2 separate regions of the Homo sapiens genome follow, and region 1 is linked to region 2. Evidence: fine-mapped expression QTL. A gene starts in region 2. The other region holds a variant in brackets. All regions are shown on one strand. Distances are between the middles of the regions. Region 1 overlaps BMPER (BMP binding endothelial regulator). Region 2 holds the start of BMPER (BMP binding endothelial regulator).

Region 1 (5,378 bases), 160 kb after region 2:
TGTGGTAGTTAAATAAGTGTTGCATTATTTCCAGCAGTAGTGGCATTACATTGTCTGTTTCTAAAATCCCACAGAATTTCTCCCTTATTGCCTGGGTTAGTCTTAATCTTGGTAGTGTTTGGGGGCTGTCTCAGATCTCTGAAAGGAGTAACGAAGAGGAAACTTGAAGTGCATCTATAGAACATTCTTATGGGCCTCTCCTTACAACAGTCAGCAGTAATGGTAATTTACAATTTTGTAGGTAAGAAATAATAGAGGAGGCACAATGCCGTTGTCCTCCCCACAGTAAGACAGTTTTTGTAGGGTTGGCCTGAAGGAGCAATGATGATTCTCTCAAAATAGGAGAACAAAAGTCCTCTTAAAATCAGACCTGAGGGAAGTATGAAAAGCATTGCTGTCTTTTCATAACATGGAACAGGCTCTCTTTCTCCCTTTCCAACTGAAAAGAATTAGATTTGATTTTGATGATTTATTTAAAACAAAATATTTGAAGTGGGCTACACAAACTTCATAAAGCTTTCTTGCAAATGCTGTTTCTTGCCAAAGTGTGAGACTCTAGCCTTAAGCCAATCTGGACTTGCCTCGGCTGGGCACACATGAGCACAGGGTAGGTGCCAGGGAGGCCACTTGCCTGTTTTGTGTGTAGCATTTTGTTTATGCAAAATGTTGTTTTACTGTGTGTTGGCAAATAGCAGGTGGAATCTTGACCTAACCACCCAACAGAGACCTGAATCAGATAAATTCTTTGCTGGCAGGATATCTGTTTTCTAACATGGAAATAATACATAGGGTCAAAGTTGTCACTAATAAGAAAGGTGCATGTGAGATGTGTATAGAGAAAGAAAGGGAGAGAGGGATGGAGGGAGGGGCAGAGAGAGAGAGAGACTGAGATTGACAGATTGAGTATATGAGAAAATTAATCTCTCAGCCATCCACAAAAGCAGAGACAAAGGCAGCCCAGACGTGCATGCCCAGTCCCTGGTGGTTCATTAAGCTGTACCTGTAGCTACATCAGACCTAACCATCAGAATCCCAGCTTAAAACACAAGTTCACGATTACATAACACTGAGGCTGATTGAATATGCCGAGCACAGATGTGCATTTAATTGAAATAACCTCAACTACATGTCCCAGAAGTAACAGGAAATATCAAATTTCAGCAGCTCATGGTGAGAGGAGGCTCACAGTTGCCAGGTGACTTTTTAAACCCCCCAGGGTTGGTTTCCAGCTGTGTGCAGGCTGCATTGGTGTGCCTGCTCTCCTAGGAGCCCTGCCTGCTGCCTACACCCACCACAGCCACTCGTTTTGGCACATCTGATGTAAGCCCTCTGGGATGCGTACAGGTAGCTCCAATTAACAGAATGGCTGTAGGAGGGGGAGACTATAATAACAATTTCATTTATTTCCCTAGAAAAAAAACCATAATGAAACAGCAACCTAGGGGCCCATTTTATGAGAAATCTCCACTGACAGAGGTTCTGCAAATTAGTGATTCTGTGTTTGAGCAAGGTTTCTGGCCTCCAGGGCTGTAAGCAACTCCAGGTCCCTTAACACCGAGAGTCTGTCCTTAACTCAGGAAAGCAAGGAAATTCGAAACCAGAGCTCAAGATGCTTGTAGAATAAGAATTTGTGGTGTTGACTTTAGCCCTGCCAAGGAGGTGTTAACCTAAGTGGCCACTGAAGTTTCTGCTCCAGCATCTGGAGTCGGGCTTGACACTGTTCCTCAGGCCCAAACAGCAGACAGGGGTGGCAAATAAAACCCACTGTACCACACATGGTGGCTGGGAGATCCCACACCGGTAGAAGCCACGCTGGAAGGAGCATGAGGAAATCAGTCTGTCTTCTGTTTTATATGCTGTTCTGCTCTAAGGGATACTGTTACTTTAATTTTTCTTGCTGTAAATTAGTACAGAGTTGAAGGAGACTGAAGTTATTAGGAATCACCTTTTCTCTACCACCTATTGTCAATTCCCACAGGGTGTTAGTACTCAGTAAGTCCTTGATAAGTGATTATTTGATGAATTAACAATCACCACCATCATCATCCACAGATAACAATAATAGCAATAATAACAACAGTAGTACCCACCAGCAGCAGCAGCAGCTAATATTTATTTGGCATCTGCCGTCTCTAAACACTATCTTGGGCAGTCTCATTTGGTTTCATTTGATTATCACAGCCGTCTTGTGGTCAAATAGTGCTGTTAGCTCCATTTTACAGTTGAGGGAACTGAGGCTTAGAGGTTAAGAAGGACGCTCAAGATAGTTGTGGAGCCTGAATTCCAACCAGGTAGCTGGCCCGAAAGCTTGGTCTGGAATTACTTCCCTTAGCTTCCTTGTCATTTTGTACAGTTTGATAACCAGTTGAAGTTAAGAAGGGGAAGAGAAGGTCTGGAGGGCTTTACAACTTGTAAGCATTGGAGACTGGCGAAGGACCTTAAGAGGAATTTCCAATTAACAGTGTTGTCCCTCCAACCACACCTGGTTGGAAATGGAGACTCAAGTCCCCAGGCTTTCTTCTACTGTGGCATCTCCGTCTTTCTGCTCAAGTACAGAGAAGTGGTGGTTGGTATGCTCTGAGCTCACTG[A/ACAAAT]CAAACTGGCTTGGTTTTCCATTTTGTTTGTTTTCCATGTCTACTAGTTTTTCCAGTTTTTTTTTCTCGTGGTAATTCAAGTTACTGGGGTCAAGTGAAGATCTCCCCAAATTTTCTTTTTAAGTACACATAGTTTTGAACTTGAAATAACTCTGTATATAATTTCCACCAGGAATGGGTAAGAGCAGAGTTGCCCTGCCTTTGGAGCTCATCACCATTTTAGCATCAGGAAATTTGTAAGTGAAGGGACCTTAATATGAGGTTAGACCTCTCACTTCACAGGTGAGGAAACTGAGACTCACAGCAGTACTAACTGAATGAGCTGGGATGAGGACTTGCATATTTTTAAAAATCTCCTAATCCAGTATTCATTCTACAGGCCTCCCTGGATTTTTGCTTGGGAAAGCTATTTTTAATATAGGTGTAGCATTATGACATAGTTCAATTAAAAGCTAGTTTCTTGCTTAATTTCAAAAGAATGCATTTTATATAGAAAAAGATATGCGAATTCATTATTAGACATCTGGTACAATGTAGCCAAGGCTGCCATGTTGAATCTCAGGAAAATTGCAAGTATCCAGTTTTGACTGAGGGTATGTGTGACGGAAACTCCTTGGTAATGATACACCTAAAATACAGCTAAACGACAAAACAAATGAACAATAGAAACCCCAAGCTGTGAAACTTAAAAAATACACTTGGTGGGAAGTACTGTATAACTAATTATACATTACTATATGCAGAGCTGAGGCAGATTTATTCCTCTTTGGAGGTCACATCTCCTATGAGCAAAATAAAAGCAACAAAAATTGCTACTTCTGCTGCCTCTGCAATTGCTCCTATAACTAACAGCGACTTATTGAACATTAGTCCATATCAGTCAGGTATTGTGATAAATGCTCTCCATTTTGCCATTTAATCCTTACCATGTTCCTATGAATTAGAAGCTGTCATTAGCCTGAGGGTGAAAGAAATTAAATAGTTTGTGGTCAGCTAATACACTGGCCTACGAGACTCCAAAGCCCAAACTTTTATGCACTATTCTCTGTTCTCTATTGACTACATTTGTATTCATTTTGGAGGTTCACTTCCAAACAGATATGAGGTTTGCCAGTTACTTTCTTTTATACATGACTAGTGGCTTCTACTTACAAGCAGTTGTATTTACTTACTTTTTAAAAATGTACCTACATTTATGAGGTCACTTTAACCTCTTCAGTCTCTTAGGTTACAATACTTCAGTTGTAACCTTTGCTGGGAGTATGGAGAGATGACTCATTAGCTGTGCTTTGCATGGCCCTTTGATGTGAAATTCATATTCATGAATGCTGTCATTCTTTCTTCTTATCTCTGTTCCCTTCCGCGTTAGTACTCTCTGCCCTCATTCATTGCTACACCCCTCTTCTCTGACTTTCCATATCCTTCTTTAGTGCAAGTATCTGTTGTTTTACTTTTTGCTTTTTCATCTTGTAAACCCACAGCTCCACTTTCATGGTGCCCTTTCTGTACTTTCTCACTCTGGTTTCAGATTTGTTTAAGCTTTGAGGTCCTTAACATATCACTTCTTAACAAGATGCTAATGTAGTAGATCTCAGCTTCTTGGAGAACATGTTCTTTCAAAGTATTGCATTTGAATTTTGTTAATAGTTTCTACCTTTGATTCCCCCAATTATTTGAGCTGGGAGTTGGATGGAGGGGCTAATGGCTGTTTCCAATCCCTGTTTGTTGACTGAATTCTGGCACCCCCATATCCCAGCTGCACAAGATTTGAGCCTTAATGTTATTTCTCATACTTTTGGCATTTCTCCCCCATGTTGCTAATCAATCATCAGGTTTGCTTGATTGTCTTTTTGTGATGTTTTTCAAATAAATACTTTCCTTGCCATTCCCATGGCAGCCGGACACTCATCCTATTGCTTGCATGTAATCTCCATCTCTCTTCTCCTTCACCCCTTTTTGCACACCCCTGTCAGAACCCAAACTTAGCTTTCACAGAAACCTACACCAGCTTCCTTCCCTTGCGGTTTCCCAGAGTTTGTTTTATAAAACACTAGTGCTGAGGGATAATGATGAGTAATATTTTCAAAACAAGGTTCTGTGATTAAATACACTCAGGAAATGCTGGGTCAAGTAAACTTAAATGTGTTTTCTTACTGCAGAATTCTCAGAGCCCTTAATATGCTGACGTGCATGGTGAAAGAGGTTGGAGTATAGAGTGCCTCCCAAACTAATTTGAGCGGCAGAGCTTTTTTTTTTTTTTTTTTTTAATTTCTACTTATTTTGGCAGAGCAACAGGCAGGATTGATGTTTCACAGGAAACACATCAAGAAATGCTGGTTGTTTGGAATACATTTAAACTTCTCAGGCTGGCAGTAAATCTCAGGCCAATTTATTTAGACAACTTGGGTGTCTTGTATCTCCCGAAGCAGCTCTGCACTCTGGTGCGATTGGCCTCCTGCTCTTCTTGTATAAGCTGCCCTCTTATCTATGTCCATGACTTTATTTACATTCTTCTTTTGGCCTAGAAGGCTTACTTCATTCTAGCCCCAAATCTGTATTTTATGTCTTTTATAGACTACCTCAATTTACATTGTCTTTTCAACAAATCTATACTTTCTAAGTTCATTACAGTCTTACTCAACCCCATTTTAGCCAGCACTAGATAACTATTTGCTAGACTTGCATAACATTTATAATAAGCAAATGAATAATGACTACTCTGAGTATCTCTTATGTTCTAGGCAGCTTTGCAATGCTATCTTTATAATCACCCGGCAAGGTAATTGTTC
Region 2 (5,378 bases):
CTGATAGACTATCACTTGAGGGGTGATGGCAGCAGTAGATGCATGGGAAAACATCTTGATAAGGCCTTGGAGAAAAGGCTGCTCTTTCGGAAGCAGGGCCCATTTGCCAAGAAGGCAGCAAGGGAAATCGCTGGTGGCAGAGGCTTATAACAAACAGGAAGAAGAGACAGGTTTGCCAAAGGCTTCTGTGCATTTTTCCCCTTCGCAAACTTTCAGACAGATGAAAATGTTTTTAAGGTGGTTTTTGGGTTTGCACCTACAGGGAGAGTTCCAGTGCATTCCAAAGCACCATGCTGCACATTATGGAAATGCCACACACAGCTAGATTCTATCATAAAGAAATTTGTCATGCAAATTCTGAGGATGTTTGGCTGGTGTCAGGGAGGGAAGGCATATCAAAGTAACTCAGGCACACCCTTCAAATGTCTTGCAATTTCATAGCATGCATTTATCCAAATTTATGGCTAAGGCAACAAAAGGTCTCCCAGCTTCCTTATTCTTCAGCTTTCCATAATTAAATTATGATAAACAACTTTATCTAAAAGCCTCATCCAGGGACAATCTTTTTAGATAGAGGAGATAGTGGTTCCAACTGATTGTACTTATCTGCAGCAATAAAGGTTTCTATTTATTTAATTTTTAATTTTAATTTTATTTATTTTTTAATGAGTCCCTGGGAAGTAAGGCTGGATTTAGAGATTTTTCTCTTTTTGCATATTATCTTTATGATTAGTAAATACATAAACACACTGGTTTCCGAGAAGCTGCCTGGCCATGGCTTTATTTGGGTGGGGGGAGGGAGGGAAGGAATCACACATCAGCCTTCTCTTTCAATTTAAATTTTACGGTAAGAATCTATTTTGGGAGGGAAATGGAGCATGCTAAGCTAATGACAGTTTTCCCTTCTCTTATTTTTCCCACGTCACAGCAACGTGCTCGCATCAGCTCCTCGGTGTGTCGCGATGTTGGCAATGTTGCACTAATTAAGTGAAGTCTCCAAATCACTCGAAAAAACGAATAAACAGTCAACGAGGCAGGGAAGGGTTAAGGTGAAGCTAGATTAAACCTGTCAGCAAACAGACTCATTTATTTTCAAAGCTGTAGTTTCCACAATGGAAACAACCCACTTTGCCTGGAGACCCTTAGGTCCGTTCCGTGGGGACCCGGTTTCAACTCTTGGACAGAGGAAGTCGGTAGTCCACCGTGAGCTCAAGGACAGCTAGCTGATCGTCAGGTCCCAACACTTGCCAAGCGTCCCTCACTCCCACCTCGCGCCTTCGTACTTTGGTTACAAAAATCATCTCTCTGCGATTGCACCCCTTTTGAGTAGAGGGTGCCACTGCGTGGGGAGGAGGCGGCGATTCAGCAGGGGGATCACAGGAGCTGACTCCCCGACACCCAGTGCTGCAGAGGCGAGAGGGCGCAGCCGGGCTGAGAGAGCGACGGAGCTCCGAGCTGCAGAGGCCGCCGCGCGGCGGCCCCCGCCAGAGATGAGCGGTGGGGCGGGGGTTCCTCCCTCTTTTCGGGTGAATGAATGATTAGTCAAACACCACCTCCCCGCCCCGGTCCGCCCGAGATTGGAAGGGAGGAGTCTCGGAGCGACTGTTCATTTTTTAAGGACGAAAGGCGTTTGCCTCGGTACGTTTTTAAATCGACCTTGTGTGTGTTTCAACTTCGGTCATCCCTAGTGTCAGGACGCGCAGACAGCTAAGCACAGAACACATCTCTAAGGCCACTTGCCCCTCTGTCCGCTCAGCCCCCTGAGTTCGCTGTCGCGCCCCCGCCAGAGGGAAGCAAAGCAGGGCATGAAAAGTTGCGGGGGCCCTACTGCCCCGGGTGTGTCGCTCCTTCCCAAAGGTGGGGCACCCGGGAGCGAGCAGGGTGGTGGGGCGCCCCTGCGTCCCGTTTGCTGCTCCCTCGCTGGATTGGGGCACCCGGGCCTGAGCGCTAGTGCTGCGGCATCCCCGGGGCTCCCCCAAGAAAGGGAGGAGGAGCCGCGCTCGCCCGGACAGTGGAGACGCGCCTTCTCGGCTCTGGTCCGCGCCCTGGGGCCCTGGCCTCCCTGGAGGGGCTGGGGAACTGGAAGCTGGGCCGAGAGAGTTCCCGCTGCAGCTATCGCGCAGTCCCTCCTGCGCCCGGGCGCCCCCAGCGGGTTCCGGGAGGCGCCCGGTGAGCCCACGTCTGTTGCGGCGGAGCGAGCGCGCTCCGGGAGGGCCGAGAGCCGGCGGGGCTGGCAGGAGGTGAGGAGTGCGGGAGTGGAGGACGCTGCGGCAGCGACAGCGACAGCCCCCGAAACAGTAGCGGCAGCCCGGGCGGCGGCTGAGCGGCAGTGCGCAGTCGGCAGCGCCGCAGCTCCTCTCAGTCTATCTCCGGCTGCCGCAACACCCCTTCCTCCTGGCCCCCTCTCCGGCGCTGAGGGGCTGACTGCTAAGCCACTGCAAGCAACTCCCTCAGGAAAAAAAAAAAAAAAGCCGCATCGGAGGAGCCTGGCCGCAGGACCCCTCCTCCCCGGGCGCCCCCACACCTTGGTCTCTCCCCCCGCCCTCCCTCACACCCCCCCGCCCCCCAGCTCTCGGGCGCCCGCCTCCCTCCTTCGCGGACGGTCTCCCGACACGCCGGCTGAGAGCCCTTTTCGACTGTGAGCTGCGGCAGCTGAGCAGAGGCGGCGGCGCGGGACCTGCAGTCGCCAGGGATTCCCTCCAGGTGACGATGCTCTGGTTCTCCGGCGTCGGGGCTCTGGCTGAGCGTTACTGCCGCCGCTCGCCTGGGATTACGTGCTGCGTCTTGCTGCTACTCAATTGCTCGGGGGTCCCCATGTCTCTGGCTTCCTCCTTCTTGACAGGTAGGGGAGGGGGCGGGAGGGACCGGCCCTCCGGGACGCCGGTTTGGTACCTGGGAAAGGTGGCGCTGGCTTGCCCCGGGGATGGGAGGGTGGGGAGCGCGCACCTTGGCGCTTGCCCTGCGCTGGTCGATGGGGATGAAGCGAAGCCCCGGGAGGGCTGGGAAGGCTGGTGAAGAGGTTGCGGGCTGAGAGGCTGTTGCCTTCAATGTAGTAATAATAGACATTCTTCTATTTGAATTTGAGAAATTATTTTATTTATTTTTAATGCTTTCCTCAACTTTTATTTTAATCTTTCCCTCTGTAGAACTCAGGAAAAAAATTTGTGCAGTTTTCCGCACATCTTCCTTTCTCATCTTTGGGGTTGCAATACATCCACTGTGCTAGGAGTGCTTTTTAAAGCACTGGCTCTCAAGACCTTGAATTTAAAGAAACTATCATTTAAAAAGGGCACTAATAGCCGGATATAATAATTATATGTTTTCAGGCAGGTGAAGACCTCAGCTGCTATTCTGAAGGACATACTTTACTGACACCTGGTGCAGAAAAGAAAATATGGAGTCAATTTCTAAGAGAAGGGAAAAGGGGATTGCGTTTCAAAAAGTGATTTAAACCTAAGACAATGCGAGACAGATTCATAGAAAGGCCTGTTTATTGACTCAGTTCTGAGTTTTGGTCAATTTAAAATCTGCCCCAATTTGAGGGTTTTTTTAAATTTTATTTTTTATTTTTTTCTTTGCGTATGGGGCTGTGTGCTTAGTTGAAATATCTTCATAAAGGAGGAGTGTTATTAAAAATCCAGTGAAATACTTGGAATTGTGCTTAGACCATCTGAGAACAGATAATTTATCCCTATATCATAGTCTTTTCTTTTTTGAACCTGTTTAAATAAAATTATTGAAAATGGAGTTGGGGGCAGAGGTTTTGCTTTGGTGAATTTAATAATTTAAACCACATTAAGAATTCTGAAGTTTGGGTAGAGGTTTCAAAAAGGATTAGTGTAAAAATTTTAAATGTTGAAATCATGCTGCTAAGCTAACTTTAAATGAAACATTTTTCCCCCCTGAATTTCAGGTTCTGTTGCAAAATGTGAAAATGAAGGTGAAGTCCTCCAGATTCCATTTATCACAGACAACCCTTGCATAATGTGTGTCTGCTTGGTAAGTGTGGAGATCAGGTAATATGAACTCAACTGCTCTCTCTGATAAGGTGAATCCATTAAATGTGATAATATAACCAGATCTTACAAATTGTCTTTATCATTACAAAATTGCACATAACTGTACATAGTTTGTGAGTTGAATCCAGTTAATTTCTGAGTTTTATGGACTTTGGCAATTTCCATTTCATCCAGCTGGAAATTCTTATCTTTGACATCATCCTTATAGACGTAAATTTCAGATAGGCTTTGTATGACGTCTCGGTGAAATGACAGTTTGTAATGTCTGTTTCCAGTAATGATTACTACAACCAAATTCTTGGGACAACAAAACTTTCTGCGTTGGTTCTGTCATTTAAGCTCAGTGGGAAAATGATGAGATAAGATTTAAGTATGAAGGTCAGGAATAAGGTATGCGACAAAGGGAAAGAGAGGTGACAGCCACAAAAAACAAACATAAGGACAAGATGTAATTCTGGATTTCTTTCTCGGGTTTCTTTGCCTGTTATACCCTAAACCCTCAAATACTGTCTTTATTTCTGATTTGGAAGCATGAGTCGGAAAGGACAATTCCATCCTTAATAGAGAATGACACTTGGCTGTCAGCTGCTTAGTTAACACTATCAGTGGTTAGAAGACTCAAAAAATAATTTGTTTCCATTTATTTTAGTTTAGTAGTTAATGATAAGTCTAATAAGTAACCACTTGGGGGAGATTAAGTAATGTGAATAAGAATTTCTGAGATGAAATATAGACCTACAAGGTAAACATTTTTGCTTAGGAGTGTTTTACATGCCAATCACTTTTGGCAAAATTTGGTTAGAAACTACACATTATAAAACCTTGTTGGAAATACATTAAGGCAGTCAAATGCAAAGCCCCAGAATGATAGAGGACTACTTGTTGCTAGATCAGCATGCTGTGTGGCGCTGGAGAAGGAATTCATTTCGGTTTAGGCAAAAGCCAAGCTATCTGAGTTTATACTACATAAATTTTTTCATGACAAGAGTTGAGGTCAATGTTTTGAAGTGATAAATGGGTGAAGGTAAATGGCTGTATCAAACAATTATCAGGTTCGGAAGACTAAGGAAATCAACAGAAACAAGTAAAAACGCACTGCGTTTGCTGACACAATAAATATTGCTGCCTAATAAAACAGAGCTGAGAGAGGGTGTATTATGATTGCATATTTATGGGTTGCTGTGTTCATTGATGATCTTTTAGTAAATAATTTGTTGAAAAGAAGCTTTCAGTTTAAATTTTGACTCAGTTGTAGATTTACAAATGCAGTGTGTGTGTATGTGTGTTTAATCTTCCTTTTTTATTTTTCTTATCTGTGTAATGTGAGTGAATTATTTTATCTTAATCTATTAAGATTTC

What was found. PIP is the estimated chance that this variant, and not a neighbour inherited with it, causes the effect.
Region 1: its variant is the best candidate, but not a certain one, in a credible set for the expression of BMPER in cerebellar hemisphere (GTEx, PIP 0.79).

What each region holds. Positions count from the first base shown.
Region 1 is chr7:34,065,982-34,071,359 of GRCh38, forward strand. The region is part of intron 11 of BMPER (BMP binding endothelial regulator); the gene reads left to right. Among named protein-coding and RNA genes, the nearest start is that of BMPER, 160 kb to the left of the region's middle. The variant A/ACAAAT (reference allele first, on the strand shown) is at 2,590.
Region 2 is chr7:33,902,905-33,908,282 of GRCh38, forward strand. BMPER (BMP binding endothelial regulator) reads left to right here and starts at 2,635. Exons shown (of 15, transcript NM_001365308.1): 1 at 2,635-2,842; 2 at 3,914-3,999. The coding sequence starts at 2,710.